4 linked regions of the Homo sapiens genome follow. The protein of the gene in region 4 purifies or fractionates together with the protein of the main gene of each other region. This does not show direct contact. Each region holds a gene or a part of one and is shown on either strand. Other genes may lie near its edges.

Region 1 (2,965 bases), on a different chromosome or scaffold from region 4:
ACATACACGATATAGAATGTTTATCTTCCCCTTCATCCAAACCTATAAGAAAAAGCAAACGACCTTCCATGTGTTCCTTAAGGATAAGAGGTAAGTCAAATAATCAAATTCTTAACGGAGATGCCTCAAAGTAATTATTCTGGTGAATCTCAGAATGATGGACGGAAGCATACAGGGCACTGTCAGTAAAGGATGAGAATGTTACGTAAGTACTAAAAGGTATAAGGTCAGAGTAATTTCTGTTGGGTAGGCCTAACTAAAAAGTTCAAGAGTGGGTTCTTGCCCTGCCTGCACCTATTACAGTCCATGTCACAGGGTAGGTACTCAAAACATGGGTACTACATAAATGAGTTTTTTCCAGATACTGGATATCTGGCAAATATCTAAAAGCTTAATACATGGCAGAAAATAAGAAAACACCTATTCCTTCCTCACAGGATCAAAATATAATAATAAAAAGATGTTTTATAAATTTTGTCTGAATACACACTTGAGATACGTTATTGTTAGAAGAGAATACTTTATTTTGAAATAAAATACAAATGTGCAAAGGAAATTAGCTCCTCCTGCCCCCCCTTTGAACAATGAGTCAATAGAATGTGAGACTGGGTAGATTAGCAGATAATAGGCAAAGGTCTAGCTTTTCAGTGGCAACTTGAAGAAACCAAAGATGAATGATGCTAAAGGAATGACCCTTTGGTACCTGTTTTAAAGTACTTCTGGCCCCCTTCTTTTATAAACCCCCAGGAGCCCAGCACCACACCTTGTTACCCTACAATGATCACTCACGCTCCACGATGTCACTAATGTAATAACTGAAGATATGGGCCAGTTTGTCCATGTCACGTTCCGACTTGTAGGTCAGGGTGAACCTGTCCATTAATGCTGTAAACCCTGACCAACAAAGCAGAAATTACGATGTTAACTCCAAATCCTAAACTTTTTGGCCCCTTTCTCCCCACACATCAGGCCAGTGTAAAGGAAACAGATCCCTTCAAGCTGAGTAATTCCTTTATCCATTAACATGGTGTAACTTAGAAACTACTAAGGGCCAGGTTGGTTGCTGCTGCCACTGGGAATCCAAAGGACCACCCTCTCTGCTTCCAAGAGCTGGAGATGGTGCCCTTTTCATCTGGAGCCAGCTCTTTCCCCTACTCTCTTAGGCTGCCTAGCTATGGGAAACAATAGGATCCCTCCTCATGTCTGGCTAGAGAACCACTCACACAGTGAGGACAGGCACCTGGTATTACCCATCTTCATATCCCTGACACAGAGTAAGTATTTGTTAAATGAACGACTCGCGGAGTGGCTGCTAGATAGCTACGGCCAGAACAACGGCGGGCATATACTTATGACGCCAAGAACGAATTAACTGAACGAATAAAATAATTGAAACAGAACGCTTAATAGAAAATGCTCGGGGTTGGGAAAAACGGGTTCAAAGCCCGGGGCGTGGTCCTGTAAAAATCCTTTCCTCTGAGTTTCAATTTCATCATCTTTGGGGTGAGCTCAAGGACTGAGCCGGTTCATCCCAAAAGATGTCCTCCCACGCTAAAACGAAGATACTCAAAGTTTCCTAAGGAAGCCGCAGCACGAAGTTAAACTGTGCCTTAGCTCGCGGGAGGCTAGGCCTGTAACCGTCGAGGCCTCCAGGGGCTTAGACCCAACGGCCGCCTCTCCCGCAGGCCAGGAGACTTAAGTGCAAGTGCCGGCCGTCGCCCTCACCCGTCACATGGACGCCTAGGAGGACGCCCTGGGCCGTGGCGAGCTCGGGTTCCCATCCCCGAGGCTTCCGAAAGACCAGTAGGTCGGGAAGCAGCGCCGCCAAGCGGGCCTCCACAGGCCACAGAGGCGGCGTCGCATGCCGCTCGCCGGTCACCATGGCTGCCCGCCTAGGTACCGGAAACAGGGCCCAGCCGCGTAGCAGCCAATCCGCCTAGCAGGCTCTATTGGAGGCCTGCCGCCGATCAATCCGCGCAGGCTTCCTTGGGACAACGCCAATCGGAAGCGACTTCAGTCGCCGCCCCACCACCTTCCCACATTCTTAGCGGGGCCTACTTCCCCGGGGAGAAGGGGCTGGAGGTGCGGCGGTCTGCGCTTTCAAAGGAGCAAAGCTGTCTTTTCTACTGGAAACGGGGGAGGCGAAGACGCTCCTACGATAAAGCCGTTGGTGTGAGATAAATATCGAGAGGTCTTTCCCTCATACCACAGAGTAGAATCTTGGGTCATCTCTGAATTTGGTAAGGACAGGTTCCACTGGCATAAATCTAAGCCAAACTCAAGCACAGTTTGACTAAAGCTATCAAATACTGTCAGTGCTTTTCCTTCATTGTGGAGAGTTTCTCCTCTCTCATCTGCCAGGGCAGGTCTACTGCTCTCATCATTGAGTGCTTCCTCGGGCTGTTTGTCTCTTGTGTGTTGATAATGGCATATCGGAGGCTTCTAGTCTTTGTTGCTTAGATTCCCAGCGACCGTAAGGTAAAACAGTAACAAGGTGAGCATGCTGTGGATTTTTAACAATCAGAAAAGTACTTTTGTTTTGGTCTTCTGCCAAAACAAAATCTAACAAAACGTAAATAGTACATCTTCACTACCTGAAATTCTACAATACTTAAGGCTGTTTTTGTGATAACGGCTAATTTTCCTCATGGAATTACTTCATCACATTTTGATAAACACTTTCAGTAGTAGCATCAAATGTATGATCAGCCTGCAGGTGACAGAAAAAATCTCCTCAACAGGGTGGAAGGGCCAAAAGGGAAGAAATTAAGGGGAGATAAAGCTAAGAGGCTCAGACATTACAAGTTTGATACTGTTTACAGAGACACCGTCCATGCAGACAAGTCTTGTCGGGGGAGATCAAAATTTCAACACTGGAAACACAAACTAGAACCCAGGAGTTGCAGATTCCTCAAAAGTCACATTACTTTTCGGTTATTTTTATAAATTTATTTTAAAAAATAAC
Region 2 (3,500 bases), on a different chromosome or scaffold from region 4:
TTTTTTCTCAGAAAGAAGCTAACATTAATGTGTGCTGGGCACCGTCTGACAGCTTGGCTCTAACTCCAAGTAAGTTGCCCTTGTCTTCTAAGTACTCTACAGAGTGCAAAGGCTTACCAAATCCAAACCACCTTGAATTAAACAAATCTTAATGAGGAGCATCATCGTTCTTTGTATGAAAGTCTTTGTTATGTTACCAAATGAAGAAATGCAGTACATTACACCTCTATTGATGTAAATGAGGCTCAAACATCTCAATTCCATCCTCTTCCTACCCCCCAGCCATCAAACGTTATAACTGCTTAGTGACACTTTATTCAAATTACAACCCATAGTTTTTGCTCCAAAAAATGCAACACCTGAGAAAGGCCTGTTGCTTTAAAATCAAGAATCTATAAAAGCAATGCCACCCTAATCTTAAGGTGCTTCTTAGGTATTTCCCAAAGCTCTTTGCTCTTTTATACTGCAGCATTTTCAGGAGGAGTCATTAGATACTGTCAAGGTCCAAGAAATAACTAAAAACAAAAAATAACCTGAGACTCTTTTCTGCACCGCCACCAGCTGCCCAGTACACTAGGTCACCTTTTACAGCAGTGAGCACAGCAATCCATGCCACAAAAATCTTCGCAAAACAAGAAGGAAAGGTACAAAAAGAATTATATTAAAATGGTAACATACACTTGTATGAGGGAGGGATATTTAAAATTAAAATATTATCATCACAAGAAACACCAGATATTCCTTGCTCTGCCCTTGGGCAACCAAGAAACTTAAAGCCTGTTTTATATCCCAGAAATAAAAGAGAGACGTGATAGAAGTAACAGTGCTCAGTGCTTGCAACCCAAGTCAATTTATACTCTTGTTAGGTAAGTCCAAATTCTAAAGTCTACAAAAATCCTGTTAAATCAAGGGGAAAAAAAATTCATTTTAGGACAAAGTTATTCAAGATGAAAGGAAGGCATGTGTTCAGTGAGAGAACTGCCTGCTGTCAGATGATTTCTTGCTAATGTGTTTAAAGATTTTGGATTTCTCAACTTTCTTGGTTTTCTGGTAGCCAAATCCACCACCACCTCCTCGCTTTTTCTGCTTGCCTTCATTACTGTTGACGTCTGGAGGCAAACATTAAGGAAATCAAGCAAAAAAGATAATGAACTCCAATCTAACATCTACACAGAGAAAAAAACCGGCATGAACACTACTGTTCCTCCACAACCCCATTCTCAACAATGAAAATGTGGGAACATAAGCCTATGCAATAAATTTCCAGAAAATTAGGAGTGGCCACGTGACTGTGGACTTAAATTAGCAGGTATGATTTTAAACTTCGGTGTGTAATAGTCATATTAATTATTTCTTCCACACGATGAAATTCATGACAGTGAATAAGGATTTATGAGTTTAATCAGGAAGTTGGTAGGAGCACATTAAAAAAACACCTCCTGTGTCAAAACAAATGACTATCATTTCTCTTCGGAATTGATTTAGGAATGCCTAAGTGAAGGAGCTGCTCTTCCTTCCACAGGACTCGACATACATTCATTTCAGCTGACATTTACTCAATGCTGACAATGGGGATGGTGACCCAAAATTTGGTCCTCTAGTTCCCTCAGAAGTTACCCCTATGGCACTGAAGCACAGGCCTCATTTCAGCTGCTCAGTTTCTTCTTCTGAAAGGCACAAATTATAAATCACAACTGAAGCAACTGGAAGTACTCCTGCCTTTTATCTTAAGCAACACCTAAGTTTTATTTTCTTTTGCTGAACTTGCCACTTTCTTGCATAAAATCCTTCAGGGGTTCTAAGATGATTAAAACTCCTTGAAAGGTCCCATCCTCTCTTTAGCTTCAAAACACCCCATTCACCTAAGTACCCTGCACAGTGCAGCCTCAGCAAACACTGAAGTTTTGATTTTTTTAACCTGTGTTTCTGCCTGGAACACACAACTGTCTCTGTCTCTCCTTGACAGTCAAATTTCTTTGTCTTTTGAAGGCTCAAGGCATAAGCTGCCTTGTCCCTGTAACCCCATCCTAATGATTAAGCCCTGCTTACCCCATCCAACCTCTATGTCCTGTGCTAGCACAGAAAAGCAGACATCGACCAGGGTGAACACTGGAGCCTCCAGTCTGAGCCAGAACACATACCAATCCACTGCAAAGCCCCAAATGCCCCTCTGTCAAGCTTTTGTTCCTTAGTCACAGGATAACTTCATTAAAGAAAAGGATACTCAGATCAACGAAGGGAGGCACCTTGAAACCAAATGACAGAGCAACCTGAGGCAAATTTAGGTTATTAACATTAAAGATCTGTTTCAGAGAATGGGAATCATAGGCTCGTATGTATGACTTATATGCTTCCTGGGCTGACTTATGAAGAAAGTAATTCTTTTCAATCAATTTCTCAAGCTGAAATAGAAAGAAACACTGGTTTTAATAAACAAAAACAAACAAAAACCTCCAAAACACCAGATTTTAAATATCCTAGAGCAAAGCCACTCCATGGAAAACATTTAAAGAGGGCACAGAGTGGTGATAACTAGAATAGCAAGAAACCTTATACACTACACAGCCTGATCCTCACTTTAGGACAGGGTAGACTTCAAAGGACAGTGATTGCCCAGTGAATCACTACAAACAGAGTGCTGGGACAAGGTTCCTGTTTACTCACAAACGTTTAAAAAGCACATACCTGAGACTGAATGTCAGAAATTTTAGACCAGGAAAAGTCAAATTCACTTAATGGAACCTAGAAATCAAAAGTATTAAGATTAGTAAACCAGGATGATCAGCATTCCGATACTGGGTACTGAAGACAGGGAAGGATGAACCGGCCTATGAAATTCCCTCAGGACAGAAAGGAAAATCTGCTTTTTCTAGTCTCCCAATGTTGATGGGAAAGTTACATCTTTGCTCTGCTGAGTTAGGCAATCTGCACTTCTTTCTTTCTGAAAGGCAAGGAACTGGATAGGGACACAGTCAGTAAAGCACTTTTCTGTAAGAATCTCTATAATCCTGACTATTTGCAACCATGAATCAGCTTGAAGCTTCTAGTCAGAAGGGCCATCAGCCCCTTTTCTCCATGTCAGAAGAGGGGCCCTAATACCCCCACAGTCCTGTATTGAGGCTTGTGACACTGGAGGCCATGATGACCACAAACTCCTACAGGATGGATCTGCCATCAGTTATCACTCATTAGATAACTAGAAAAGCAACAGGCCTGTGCCAGGTGCTAGAGAGAAAATAGGTACCTAACTCATGGACTCTGCCCTCAGAGAGCTTGCCGTCTTGAGGGGGAGAAAGATAAGTAATGAAATGTCAACCTGTAGATTCTGGATATTAGCCCTTTGTCAGATAGGTAGATTGCAAAAATTTTCTCCCATTCTGTAGGTTGCCTGTTCACTCTGATGGTAGTTTCTTTTGCTGTGCAGAAGCTCTTTAATTAGATCCCATTTGTCAATTTTGGCTAGGACTAATATCCAGAATCTACTAAGAACTTAAACAAAT
Region 3 (3,500 bases), on a different chromosome or scaffold from region 4:
TACTACATCCCCGTCACTTCAAGTCCCCACATCCACATCTGAGATCGTTGTTTCTAGTACAGCACTGTATCCTTCAGTAACAGTTTCAGCAACTTCAGCCTCTGCAGGGGGCAGTACTGCTACCCCAGGTCCTAAGCCTCCAGCTGTAGTATCTCAGCAGGCAGCAGGCAGCACTACTGTGGGAGCCACATTAACATCAGTTTCTACCACCACTTCATTCCCAAGCACAGCTTCACAGCTGTGCATTCAGCTTAGCAGCAGTACTTCTACTCCTACTTTAGCTGAAACCGTGGTAGTTAGCGCACACTCACTAGATAAGACATCTCATAGCAGTACAACTGGATTGGCTTTCTCCCTCTCTGCACCATCTTCCTCTTCCTCTCCTGGAGCAGGAGTGTCTAGTTATATTTCTCAGCCTGGTGGGCTGCATCCTTTGGTCATTCCATCAGTGATAGCTTCTACTCCTATTCTTCCCCAAGCAGCAGGACCTACTTCTACACCTTTATTACCCCAAGTACCTAGTATCCCACCCTTGGTACAGCCTGTTGCCAATGTGCCTGCTGTACAGCAGACACTAATTCATAGTCAGCCTCAACCAGCTTTGCTTCCCAACCAGCCCCATACTCATTGTCCTGAAGTAGATTCTGATACACAACCCAAAGCTCCTGGAATTGATGACATAAAGACTCTAGAAGAAAAGCTGCGGTCTCTGTTCAGTGAACACAGCTCATCTGGAGCTCAGCATGCCTCTGTCTCACTGGAGACCTCACTAGTCATAGAGAGCACTGTCACACCAGGCATCCCAACTACTGCTGTTGCACCAAGCAAACTCCTGACTTCTACCACAAGTACTTGCTTACCACCAACCAATTTACCACTAGGAACAGTTGCTTTGCCAGTTACACCAGTGGTCACACCTGGGCAAGTTTCTACCCCAGTCAGCACTACTACATCAGGAGTGAAACCTGGAACTGCTCCCTCCAAGCCACCTCTAACTAAGGCTCCGGTAAAATTATTGTTATAAAATAATTAGATAAATATGATCAGTTTTTTTTCTCCCTAATGAGTACATTTTTCACTTCAGCCTTGTAAGTTAGAAACATATTTATAAAGGTACCTGGCTTATAGTATTTATTAAATTGACAGCAGTTTGAGGGTATATCTACAATGAACATGAGATTTTTTTTTCAAGTGTGGCAGGATTTTAGGGTTAATTATGCTGCACAGTTTTCCAAGATGGTATAATTATCGGGTAAAATACAGGTATTTCTTCTGAATTGGTACAAACTGAAGAAGTCTGTATCCCAAAAGGGAGCTAAATGCATCTGTCAGCAAAATGTACGTAAATAATAGCAGTTCATAGTCTTTGTTTCAGTGAGAATGAAGCAAATTTTTGGTTTTGTTGTAGATTCCACAGTTGTACAGTTTGGGGGTTATAAAAAATTGGAAGTTAGTAAGGAAATTGATACAGAGGAGAAATAAATAATCTAATCCTAGGACTGAAGTAACTAAAATTTATTATCTAATTATGCTGTGGTGGATTTCCTCTTGTTCTGCCACCTTCTCCAAATAACAAGGCTGTGTTACGTCTACTGTATTGTATGCTTCAGCCTCTTTCTGCATTGCCATTGATGTGAGGTTCTTTTTATAGTAGGATAATGCAGAATCTTCACTCAGATAAAATAGAAATTCTTGATAATAGTATTAGATTTCTGATGCCTTTTGTTATCAGACCTGCCCATTGGTTATTTCTTAACCAGTTACTGTTTTCTTTTCTCAGAAAATCTTGTTTTACATGGCGAAAGTCTGATACATACTGTACCAAATAAGTAGCTCAAGAATATCTGGACACTGCCACTTATGTACATATAGCCTTTGTTCTGTTCTCCCTAGGGGACAACTTTTTACTGTATTTTACTATTCATTTTATAGGTATATCGTAGTAACCCCTATAATAACAACATTAGTTGTCACACCGTTTTTTTAAGACAGATACCAGAGAGTAACCTCAGTGATAAACATGTCTTAACTATATATATTTTATTCTTATGTTTGTGCATTCAAATTAGTTGATTTGCTCTTCAGTACGCAGTCTTTATATTTAGCGTCTCACGGACTTGATTTTCCCTTTGTTGTCTGTAGGTGCTGCCAGTGGGTACTGAACTTCCAGCAGGTACTCTACCCAGCGAGCAGCTGCCACCTTTTCCAGGACCTTCTCTAACCCAGGTGCCTCAAGACTTGACAAATTTCTTCCTGTGCCCTACTTTCTTTGACAAAGCTTGCTGAAGTTCTCCACTACGTGGTCTTGGCTTTTGCCTATTTGTCTTTGACTTAGTAACACCTTTCTTTTAAAATGTTATAACCAATGACCCAGTTCCTACTTAAGTAAGAAGCTTCATAGCTCTTTTGTTTGTAATGTTGCTTCCGGTTATCCAAAAACACTTGATACTAATTTTTTTTTTATATCTTATGAAGGAAGAAAACAGCAAAGCAAACATTTTGTCAGACCCATATAGCTCCCTTTATCACTCACACTTCTGTAGAATAGCGAAATTGCGTATATAATCAAAATTAACTTTGAGAGTGCCCTAGAAAGGAGAAGCACAATATGGCAACTGAGAAACTTTTTCCGCGAGTCCAGAGCAACCAGTCTCTTCTTGAATGTTGATCATTTCTTTCACTAGCCACCTAATGAAGGAATTAGCTTACTTATAGGTAGGTATAGGGGTGATGTTTCATGAAAACTATGTGTGCTGTCTCTTTTAAAATAAAAGCCACCGAGCTCAGTGAGATGCTAACATTATGAGATCACTCATGGAGGAACTGAGACCAGCCTCATGAACTTGAGATTCCCATCTCACACAGTTCTGCTCACTTGAGTGCAGTGGTGGACAGAATTACCTGTAATATTTATTATTTCTCTTTCCCACCGCAGTCCACCGCCAACACATTTGTTGAATTTCCATAAGAAAAGTACTAATTGTGAATCTGTTGTGACCAGGAAAAATCTTCTGACATGAGACAAGCCAGTAAACTTTTAAACTAAATTAGGAATTTATTTTTGAATCATATATAAGAAATAAGAAAAACATGGTAAATTGCTTACTTGAGAAGCTGAGTTGGAATTTATCCCTATTTCTTTGGTCCCAATGTACAGGGGAACACTATTTGAGGAACTTGCCACAATGAAGTAAAAACCCCAACAGAGAAAGCACTCCATCAGCCACCACATTTGGGGGAAAGTGCATTGTGAAAGTCCGTAAATCAGGAGTTAGAAAATTAGTTTTAAACTTATTTTCTCATTTAAAAACATGGATTCAGATTTCTAAGGGAGTATAAAGTGTGACAAAAAATAGCAAGTGAGACATGTGGAGGGGTAAGGGTAAATAGCTAGTGCCTAGATAGAGGGAAAGGCCTAAGCAAAGACTGTGCAAGAATAGATTGATAGAAGCCAAGACAGATGTAGGATTAGACTGTGGAAGGGTAGAAGGAAGCTGTGT
Region 4 (3,500 bases):
TAATGTAAATAATCTATACCCCATGCACAAATATCTGTTTCCTGGGTGTGATATATTAAAGTATGTATTCTTATTTTGAGGTATCTTTTGGAAATAATTGAAAGAGATTAAATAACAATTTATGCCACATGAAAAATAATTACTTAGAAGTAGTTAGGTATCATGTCTTATGGCTTTTTATGTTCCATTTTGGCTTTTTTTCTCATTTGCTTTATTACTATATGTACTTGCATGTAACAGTTTGTAAGCATATATTCTGACTTATTTTCCTTCTGTCATTATCTAGTGCTGTTATGCCTTCCTATCAGAATCGATAAGTCAAACTCAGAGGTGTGATTTTGGTGTTGAAGTTTTCAGGACAGAGATACTATTTCCATGGATGCATTTTAAGTAATAAAATTAGGGGAAGTGAAATCAGAAAATGAAAAATGATTACAAAATAACTTTCAGGTTTTCTATAATCAATGGCTTTAAAAAGTAGACAGTCTTAATTAATTTTAAATTAGCTTGCTCAGAAAGGTCATGCCATACAGTCCTATCATAAAAGGAACACTATAAGAATTAAGCAATGAACAGCATGATTTCTGATCACCCAGTGAGGACTGACAGTGTATAAAAGATACAGGTATGCTACTGGATGTACCCGATAATTGTTTGAGAGTTTTCTAGTGAAAAACTCAAATATGCTAGCTTAACCACAGTAGTAGGGGGCAACCTTATTATATGGGAGAGCTTCAAAACATACTGTCATTTTGTAGAAGGAGCCCAGGTAAGGATGCCTAATCCTGTCCAGTTTGGCTAGAACTCCATAGCCAAAAATGCAGATTTGGATTGAACATTTTTTTGATGGGACTTCTATCAATGCTTAACTAGTAAAAACACATCTTTTCTATAAGACTTTAGAATACTGTGGTTTCTAATGGGTTCTTGAATAATGATTTTGCATTGTGTTTTTCTAGTTAATGGTTTTTGGTAGTATTTAATGATAGCACAGTTTGGGGTTTTATTGTTCTTGAAGGGGGAGGATATTGAATTTGTTTTTCTTAGAGAAAACATCAGGTTTGCTCAAATAGACTAACAACCTGTTGTCCTTAAGCACATACTACCATGAATAAACTCAGGAAACAATTTTCAAGAAAATTCGAATGCAGTGCTGGTGATGGGGATTTTTGTGGGAAAAAACAATGGTTTCAAGTCCTTTCACAAAGATCAAACTTCAGCCTATTTTGTTAGACTCAGCAATGTCTAAAACAGTGTTTTTTGTAATTTATTGTCATTGGTAATTCAATATAATAAAACAATTTTGATAGCACCTCTGTTTGGCTCAAAGGGATTCCATATGTTTAGGCAACCCACAACCTTAAGAACAGATGCTTGGTATTTATAATGTCTGCCCATTGGAACAACATGTTAAAATAGTACTGCCCAGAGAAACTTCCATACAGATTGACTAGTATTTTCTAGATAGAGGTCTTTCATATATGAAGAAGGAAAACAACCATTTATCTTGGCCCTAAGGCCCACAAGAAAACTTAGGCTTTAAAGTGGGCAAAGCATATTTGTGGTATTCTGTACATTCTCTTTCTCCTGGCTTTCCAGCCCCTTCATGCTATCTATCTTATTTGAGCACCTCACAGCAATACTCCATCAACGAAATTTACCCTATCCCCAGAAGGATTCTGTGTGATCCTTACTCCTTGTTCCTTCCTCTTCCTCTTCCCCAAATCAGGATATCCATTCTATCAGAACAGACATTTCCAGCTAAAAAGGTGAAAGGAAAGCTATCTTATTAAATTAATTTACATTTTTCTGTCAGTGGCTAATAGTTAATTGGCATTTTTTAAGGAAGTTGTGCATTAATCAAGTTTTTAGTTGCTGGATCTTCAGGCAATCTAACAAGGTGATAATTTTAAATTCAGTTCCTATCACGGAAAATATTTTGGGGGAAAGGAACAGTGTGTCCCAGGGTCAGAGTATCTAATAAACTGTTTCTTTTTTTGCACAATTTCCTTCCTACTTCCTTTCTACTTCTCAATCTACCTTTTCTCTTAAAAACTTTTAAACTTTTTAATCACAATGAACTTCTATGACAAAATGATGTGGAGGTAGACAGAGATTGGCGATTATTTCTGTATATGTTGTTTTTAAACCCATAGTTTTGTATTCTTGTTTCTCACAGTACATGACCTATATAGCATAAGAAGTTTTATTCCCCCCACCCCCCATCCCATTCCTGTTATAAAGAAAAAAAAAAGCACAGAGAGATTGAATCCAAACTACTCATGGAGTCCAAATTTTTCCAGATCCCTTTTCCAGATTTTAGGACCTAGAAATCCTTTAAGTCACAATGTTATTTCAAAAAAAAAAAAAAAAAAATGCAAGCCATATTAAGTATATATTGGCCAACTGCAATTAAACTTCTTTAAAACATTTTTGTTTTACATTTCAAAGCTTATTCAGGCATTTTTGGCATGTACCTCAAGATCAATGATTGTTGAAATTAGCAGAATAAATCAATAGTGGGCTATTTGCCTTTTTATGTGGGAATATAGTGGCATTGATAGTGATTATTCACAACATACATTATACTCATGGATGCACTGTTCCTGGTTTTAGTCTTACAGTGTAGTGAATTCCATCATATACTTTCAATAAAATGTTATGCTTGATCACCTAAAATTCAGTTTGGTTGCTAATACATAAGAGAAAAGGGAACTATACTTGAATATATTAAATTATAGACATAAGTTTCTTTGAAATATTTAGAAAAACAAAAGTTTTAGAATATGGAAATCCAAGCTTACATTATATTGGCAAATTATGTATGTTTCAATTATTCACTAAATAAATTTTAGCTAAATGCTTATAAATAAATATATATATGTAATTGCCAAGTTAGGGTTTGCTTTGTATTCACATTTCTAAACGCTGGACAATAGAGCTTCTGTGGATGACTGTTTTGCTGTAATTCCAACTGTCTAGTTATGGGAACTAATAATTTATTCTTCAAAAGGTATTAAGCATTTAATTTTACGTGGACAATTATAGAGAATGTACTAACTGCATTCGTTTATTAAAAAATTGTCAAAATGTGACTGATTAGGTTACTTTTATCTTTCCTATGAACTAATATTGCTCAGGTCACATTTTCTTTCTCTTTCCAAATTCATTCTCTCTGAAATTGCTGCTTATAACAAATATGTAGTGTTTTGTTTTTTAGTATGATAAAATTATTTTTAACAGCAGGAAAGCAGTCTATCAAGAAACAGCCGGCCGGGCACAGTGGCTCATGCCTGTAATCCCAGCACTTTGGGAGGCCGAGGCGGTGGATCACCTGAGGTCAGGAATTCGAGACCAGCCTGACCAACATGGAGAAACCCGTCTCTACTAAAAATACAAAGTTAGCCAGGTGTGGTGGCGCATGCCTGTAATCCCAGCTACTCAGGAGGCTGAGACAGGAGAATCACTTGAACCTGGGAGGCAGAGGTTGCGGTGAGCCG

Evidence for each region. Proteins that work in one complex are often made in the same cells at the same time.
Region 1: the proteins of RPS6KA6 (region 4) and NFYA fractionate together in Homo sapiens (co-fractionation; one large-scale study listed by BioGRID). This does not show direct contact.
Region 2: the proteins of RPS6KA6 (region 4) and DDX18 purify together in Homo sapiens (affinity purification with mass spectrometry; one large-scale study listed by BioGRID and IntAct). This does not show direct contact.
Region 3: the proteins of RPS6KA6 (region 4) and WNK1 purify together in Homo sapiens (affinity purification with mass spectrometry; one large-scale study listed by BioGRID and IntAct). This does not show direct contact.

What each region holds. Positions count from the first base shown.
Region 1 is NC_000006.12:41,099,939-41,102,903, reverse strand, and holds the end of NFYA (nuclear transcription factor Y subunit alpha), read right to left. Parts: 3' UTR 501-2,965; downstream 1-500. UniProt on the Homo sapiens protein: Component of the sequence-specific heterotrimeric transcription factor (NF-Y) which specifically recognizes a 5'-CCAAT-3' box motif found in the promoters of its target genes.
Region 2 is NC_000002.12:117,828,191-117,831,690, reverse strand, and holds part of DDX18 (ATP-dependent RNA helicase DDX18), read right to left. Parts: intron 2,743-3,500; coding exon 2,686-2,742; intron 2,403-2,685; coding exon 2,225-2,402; intron 1,110-2,224; coding exon 967-1,109; 3' UTR 1-966. UniProt on the Homo sapiens protein: ATP-dependent RNA helicase that plays a role in the regulation of R-loop homeostasis in both endogenous R-loop-prone regions and at sites of DNA damage.
Region 3 is NC_000012.12:885,079-888,578, forward strand, and holds part of WNK1 (serine/threonine-protein kinase WNK1), read left to right. Parts: coding exon 1-1,006; intron 1,007-2,142; coding exon 2,143-2,226; intron 2,227-3,500. UniProt on the Homo sapiens protein: Serine/threonine-protein kinase component of the WNK1-SPAK/OSR1 kinase cascade, which acts as a key regulator of blood pressure and regulatory volume increase by promoting ion influx.
Region 4 is NC_000023.11:84,059,200-84,062,699, reverse strand, and holds part of RPS6KA6 (ribosomal protein S6 kinase alpha-6), read left to right. Parts: 3' UTR 1-3,500. UniProt on the Homo sapiens protein: Constitutively active serine/threonine-protein kinase that exhibits growth-factor-independent kinase activity and that may participate in p53/TP53-dependent cell growth arrest signaling and play an inhibitory role during embryogenesis.